2 linked regions of the Homo sapiens genome follow. The protein of the gene in region 2 purifies or fractionates together with the protein of the main gene of each other region. This does not show direct contact. Each region holds a gene or a part of one and is shown on either strand. Other genes may lie near its edges.

Region 1 (3,827 bases), on a different chromosome or scaffold from region 2:
GAGATAGAGCAATAACTCACATTAATGTATTCTACATATGAATAAATATACCCTACGAAATAAATTGGTAATTGACACTTTGGCTATGTTCTTACCTTTAATGACATGTCAATTTGATTTTTGATATTTTGAATAATAAAAGCCTCCACACCTGAGTGATTACTTGTATTCAATAAGCACCTTGAAAGCAAAATTACAATAGATGTGAAATTATCCTGGACAGCATTAGAATTAAATGGTGATAAAAGTTTTACAAATTCAAAGAGGCCATGTGTTACTTCTAGGAATAAAAACCCCACAGTAATGGTAATTAGCAAGGTCATCAACCAATTACAAAGTCACCTGTAATAGTTATTGCTCTCACTAAATGGTAAATTCTTATTTATTTTATTTTACTTTTTTAGACAGAGTCTCGCCCTGTCGCCCAGGCTGGAGTGCAGTGGCACAATTTTGGCTCACTGCAACCTCCGCCTCCCGGGTTCAAGCGATTCTCCTGCCTCAGCCTCCTGAGTAGCTGTGATTACAGGCGCCCGCCACCGTGCCTGGCTAATTTTTTGTATTTGTAGTAGAAACAGGGTTTCACCATGTTGGCCAGGCTTGTCTCAAACTCCTGACCTCGTGATCCGCCTGCCTCAGCCTCCCAAAGTGCTGGGATTACAGGCATGAGCCACCACACCCGGCCGGTAAATACTTATTTATAACTGGATCTTCCAACAAGCCATTTCTATCAAACCAAAATTTGAATATTTTTATGAACATAGTTACAATAATTTAACATGGCAAGAAAGGGCACTAACATAATGGTCTAAAAAATCCCCAAATTATTTCCTGTGAAAGTAGTCCAGTGCTAGAGTAGCTTAATTGCAAAAAAAAAAAAAAAACTAGATATGACTAGCTTAAGAAAAAAAGGGGATTTATTGGTAGAGATACACATAGAACAGAACAGGAAAGCCGGTATAATACCTAAGAATTGAGATTTCATAAACTTGCTCTTACTATCAATAGAAAACAAGAAAAGATAGAATCAAGAGTGTTGGCTGGGCATGATGGCTCATGCGTGTCATCTCAACACTTTGGGAGGCTGAGGTGGGTGAATCGCTTGAGCCCAGGAGTTTGAGACCAGCCTGGGCAACATGGCAAAACCCCATCTCCACAAAAAAATTAGCTGGGCATGATGGCATGCACCTGTAGTCCCAGCTACCTGGGAGGCTGAAGCGGGAGGATCACCTGAAGCTGGGGGGCCAAGGGTGAAGGCTGCAGTGAGCCATGATCACACTGCTGCACCCGCCAAAAAAGAACAGTACTAATATTGGCCAATCCCAGGTAAGACATTTTAGCAAATCCAGCCTGATGCCCAATTTTATCAATAAAGTTTTACTGGAACACACCCATCCCCAATACAAAGTCAAAGTTGAGCACTTGCAACAGAGACTGTATAGCCCATAAAACCTATATTTACTATTTGGCTCTTCACAGAAAATTAATTAGAAAGTTTACCAATCTTTAACTTAGAGAGTTGCTAGAATCTTATCCACCTCAAAGAGCAGTATTAGTAAGCTCTTACTATTAACATAGTGCATAGCCTATCAAAGTTGTAATTCCAGAGCCATCAATTTGAACTGTGAGTAATGGAGATTAGTGACATACATAAAGTTCCAGCAGGAGCATCATCAATCTCAGTTTAATTATTTTTAAGTCTATTTCAAATTTAGAGTATTCCAATTGATTGAACTGCAATATATACTATTAGTCATACAAAATATAGACATATATATAGTATGTCTGAAATATTTGATTAACCCTTTCTCTAGCCATCACTGAGAATTTATAATATGGGTTCCAACCAGAGTTGAATTACATGTAAAACATACCGACATACTATGCCCTAAAACAATTACATGGCATTAACATGACTTTTAATCAACCACACACTTAGCAATTAGCCATGCTTGATACATACCTAAATAATGTATATTTGCCTTGTGAATCCAACTTGTTAATATACAGCTGAAGCATAGCTAAACTCTTTTTCCTCTAAAATGGAACAAACAATATTATTATATAAAATGAATAAAGCTTACCCAGACTTCATCACTATCCATTTTATGCATGTAATACATCCACACTTGTACCTCCTAAATAAAAATTTCACAAATTAAAATTTTTAAAAAGAAAATTAAATTATTTGTCAAATTTTCTCACTGTAACTCATTATTCTTTAGTCACCAAATATTTACATACCAGTGTCTCAATGGGGCAAAGTGTCATTACTTTCACTAAGCCCTGGAAATAAAAAAATGTAAAATTCAGATGTAAACAGATTATACTGACTGCAAACAAACAACTATAATACATCAATAGGATACTAAAAATTCAGAGAAGTGAGGGTAGGAGATTTAAAAGTGAAGTAAATTAATTTTTCCCTAAGCCTTCCATTCCAGAAAGCTAACTACAATTGATTTTTTAAGTGATATTGAGTAGAGTGTCACACAGTGTACTTTTAAAAGCAAACGATAATTTTCAATTATGTCTACAGTGGCAAGAAAATGAAATCAAATCTACAGAAATATAATTTATTAATTAAAAACAATCAAACAATATGTTAACAAAAACCATGTTTTTCTATTTAAATATTAGGAAAACCAGTTCCCACACTGAAATCTAAGGATTTCCTTGGATATCATAACTAACAAAGAGGATTGGGCAAAATAAACCATAGGAGGGAAAAACACAATGTGTATTAGTCTTTCTGGTAATGAGTCAGTGGATGCCTTAGATGGAGTCCTGAGAACTTGAGTTATGAGAAACATAAAGAAGCTTCATTTTCCAAGATCCCTACAGAAATAAAGTGTTAAAAGAAGAAAGTTATGCTTTTCTACTGGATGCTGTGCTATCAATAATGGTGGCCTCTAATAGCTATTCGTGTTTAAATAAATTAAAATTTAAATTTGAAACTTAGTTCCGGCTGGGTGTGGTGGCTCACACCTGTAATCCCAGCACTTTGGGGGGCTGAGGCAGGCTGATCACGAAGTCAGGAGATCGAGACCATCCTGGCTAACACAGTGAAACTCCGTCTCTACTATAAATACAAAAATATTAGCTGGGTGTGGTGGCGGGCGCCTGTAGTCCCAGCTACTCGGGAGGCTGAGGCAGGAGAATGGAATGAACCCAGGAGGTGGAGCTTGCAGTGAGCTGAGATAGCACCACTGCACTCCAACCTGGGCGACACAGCAAGACTACACCTCAAAAAAAAAAAAAATAGTTCCTTAGTCACATTTCAAGTGTTCAGTTTGGCTAGTGGCTTTCATATTGTCAAAGTTCTACTGGACAGCATTACACCAGAGTTTTCAAAGGTTGCAGAGAAAAGAGTGGGAAAGGAATCAGAAAAGACCTTACTTTAAGTTCAGAACAGGCAAAGGGCTATTTTCAATATTAGAATACATATTTTATTTACCTGAGGTACAGTAAGAAAACTCTTGATTTCTAAGTACTGGTAAAGTAGACTATTGTCTTCTATTCTCAATAAACTATTCTCCAGCAGCTCCTACAGATTAAAATATATGCAGATACATATATAGTGAAGTCAACAGCTGTTATTTGTTGACATAACTATGTATTTAAGTTATAATGGGAACAAACATCTTACCAATCCTTTGGAGATAACAGACTCTTCTGTTCTGAAAAATAATATTAAAATTTATCATGAATTTGTAAACTATTTTAGAATGATACTTCATCTTATGAAAAATACAGCAAAAACTGAAATTTTAACACTTTTAAAATGCATATCATTAAGGAGAAATTCTGTTGAAGAACTTGATCAAAAG
Region 2 (3,460 bases):
ATTAATTACTGGGCCCGAGTCATCCTCCCTCCTCAGATTCCACAGCAGCTGGGACTACAGATGTGGACCACCAGGTCCAGCTGATTAATCTTACATGCTGTAACATTTATTTGTTAATAAAAAATTGTATATTTGTTTTGTTTGCATTAGGTGTCATGCATATAAAAAGGAATATATTTGAAATGGAGTTTTGCTCTTGTTGCCTAGGCTGGAGTGCAATGGCTCACCGCAACCTCTGCCTCCCAGGTTCAAGCGATTCTCCTGTCTCAGCCTCCCAAGTAGCTGGAATTACAATCATGTGCCACCATGCCAGCTAATTTTGTGTTTTTAGTAGAGACAGTGTTTCTCCATGTTGGTCAGGCTGGTCTCGAACTCCCGACCTCAGGTGATCCACCCACCTCAGACACCCGAAGTGCTGGGATTACAGGCATTAGCCACTGCACCTGGCCAGGAATAGATTTTTAAATGATGATTTTTATTTAATTTAATTAACTTATTTGTTTGAGACAGAGTGTCGTTCTGTCACCCAGGCTGGAGTGCAGTGGCCCGATCTCGGCTCACTGCAACCTCTGCCTCCCAGGTTCAAGCAATTCTTCTGCCCCAGTCCCCCAAGTAGCTGGGATTACAGGCACCCACCATCACACCCGGCTAATTTTTTGTATTTTTAGTAGAGACAAGGTTTCACTGTGTTGGCCACGCTGGTCTCAAACTCCTGACCTCAGGTGATCTGCCCGCCTTGGCCTCCCAAAGTGCTGGGATTACAGGCGTGAGCCACCATGCCCGGCCACTAAATGATGATTTTTAAAGTCAGATAATTATGCCACACCTTAATATTTAATACTTTATTTCTACATATGACATTTTGATACAGACATGCCCCATATAATATGGACTCTGTGTTACATAAACTGTAGCTGTGTTGAGGACAGTGTCCACTGCTAGAGGCAAAGTTTTAAAATGAAAAGTCCAAAAGTTAGGTAAGTTCTGTTGCTTTAAGTTAGGAAGTTATTAGATCCCTGGAAGTTGATGCCTGCTTTCCCTTTCAGATTTTCTTTTCTTTATTTTTTTCTTTTTGAGGCAAGGTCTCACTCTGTCACCCAGGCTGGAGTGCAGTGGCAAGATCATAGCTCACTGCAGCCTCAACCTCCTGGGCTCAAATGATCTTCCCACCTCAGCCTCCCGAGTAGCTGGGACCACAGGCATGCGCCACCAGTCCCAAATAATTTTTTTGTATTTTTTTGTAGAGGTGGGGTTTCGCCATGTTGCCCAGGCTGGTCTCAAATTCCTGGGCTCAAGCAATCCTCCTGTCTTGGCCTCCCGAAGTGCTGGAATTACAGGAGTGAGCCACCACATCCAGCCCAGATTATCTTTTTTAACTTATTGACAGATAAAGATCTGGTCTGCTGTAATCAAAAAATTTTCTGTTGAGAATAAATCTGAGAGGTAGCATCTGGGAAGTAGAACCATCAAACTATAGAACCATTTTCTTTGCAGTCTCAAGGAAAAGAGTGGTTGTATTGATTCGTTCTCTCCTTCCTCTTGTGCAGATGAAAGAAAAGCAATTGACAAAATGCCTACATTTTAATGTGAGATGGCAGACTGCACATACTTCAGTTCAAAGTAGTCTAAGCATCTACGGGGTTCCCCAGACTGGAGGGCATCTCAGACACCAACTGGTGCCCTGACCCTTCACTTATTAAAGCAGAAAAAAAAAAAAATCCTACCACAAGGTTTAAAGACACAAGAGCCATGCGGCTCAGGTTGAAAGAACAACGGGCCTCATGCCTACCCCGATTCCATGAAGCGACTGAAATGGTTCCATGAACTTTTGCAACTCAGCTTGAAACTGCTGATTTGGTCCAATTCTTCTATTTTCCACGTGTAAAATTGGTGCTCAGTGAGATAAAGTGACTTATTTCTGTTCACATTGGCCAGAAATAAATCTTAATTTCCCTTTTTAAAAAAAGATAGTACTCTCACTGCTACGTCACACACTGTTATATTTTTTAAATGTTTGCAGATGTTAAATCAAAGCATGCACCTTAATGAATCTTTTCATCTCTTGGGAAATAAACCGTCACATATTGTGGAAACGCTTCCTTTGAATTTCTGAAAACATGGAACACATACTCATATTGTATATCCACAAAATGCACCAGGAATTATGCAGACGCTTTTTTTTTTTTTTTTTCCAGACAGGGTCTCACTTTGTTGCCCAGGCTGGAGTGCAGTGGCACAAACATGGCTCACTGCAGCTTTGAACTCTCTAGCTCAAGTGATCCGCCTCCCTCAGCCTCCTGAGTAGCTGGGACTATCAGTGTGCACCACCACGCCTGGCTAATCTTTTTTTTTTTTTTGTAGAGACAGGGTCTCATTATGTTGCTCAGGCTCAGACTCTTTTATGTATGTGATCATTTAACACTTAGGAACAAGAAATCCATCCCGTTGCACTGATTCAACATCTGAGATTCAGAAATTATCTGCTGTTTTGGAAGACTACAAGATGAACCAGGCAATCTCTTCAGTTTCTGTTGTCAGGGAACTTTACTTAGATTTTCTGAAAGAGCCACTGAGCAGTTTTGAGTCATTTGCCTCTTCAAGAGATTGTTCCTATTTCAGAGGTCTTTCATTTTTCCTTTTTGTATTTTGACTAGAGTTTATCTGATCTAAATACATGTTTTCTCACAGAAGGCACAAAATGCTTCATAAGGAGTCATTTTGTCCTTTCTTTCTTCTGATGAACCTGCCCTCTCCTCCTCTGCAAGGTTTCACAGTGATGTGCAACGTCCACTCTCCATGCTAAGTGACAGTGACTGTAATTTGCTGAGAGAGCAGTGACCAAACCATTGGCTCCTTCAGAGGCTGGTTATTTCAACCATCTGGAGAAAAATGGAGGCTCCTAATGCAGAGTGAGGACCTTAAGTTGTCTAGGGCAAAGACTCATTTGTTCATTCATTCATTAATTCACCCATGCACTCATTGGACAAACTTGAATAGGGTACTATGCCCCAGGGGTGTGAGGAAGGATAAACTATGGAGTGGCCCATTCACAACAACTGCACATCAGGGCAGAGCAGAAGTGCTCTAACAGCACCAGCTCCAGGTCACCCAAGGATGACCAGGAAGGCTCCAGGCAGATCAAGCATTCGAGCTGGGCTTGGAGGAATATCCTTGATTCTGGAGGTGGAGTTGGGAAGCAGCCATCCCAGCAAAGAACATGGCAGCAGAGAAGCTGAAGACACCAGGATGAGGAGTGGACCAGTCGGAATCCTTACTCCTGGATGTGCTGGGGGACAGATGGACTCCTCCAAAGAGCTGAATGCTGGGCTGAACAGTTTTAGTCCTTAGGAGCTACTGACTGTTGTCAACAGAAGGTGACAGCGCCTACCCTGGCAGCTGCCCATGGGGAGTGATGAGCCGGGGAGGAAGATCCTCAAGACAGTGAGGACAGAATGCAATA

The links.
Region 1: the proteins of TMEM213 (region 2) and GLMN purify together in Homo sapiens (affinity purification with mass spectrometry; 2 studies listed by BioGRID and IntAct, with this or other methods). This does not show direct contact.

Annotation. Positions count from the first base shown.
Region 1 is NC_000001.11:92,264,459-92,268,285, forward strand, and holds part of GLMN (glomulin), read right to left. Parts: intron 3,678-3,827; coding exon 3,647-3,677; intron 3,545-3,646; coding exon 3,455-3,544; intron 2,284-3,454; coding exon 2,242-2,283; intron 2,136-2,241; coding exon of another isoform or gene 2,082-2,135; intron 2,035-2,081; coding exon 1,961-2,034; intron 181-1,960; coding exon 96-180; intron 1-95.
Region 2 is NC_000007.14:138,804,127-138,807,586, reverse strand, and holds the end of TMEM213 (transmembrane protein 213 precursor), read right to left. Parts: 3' UTR 828-3,460; downstream 1-827.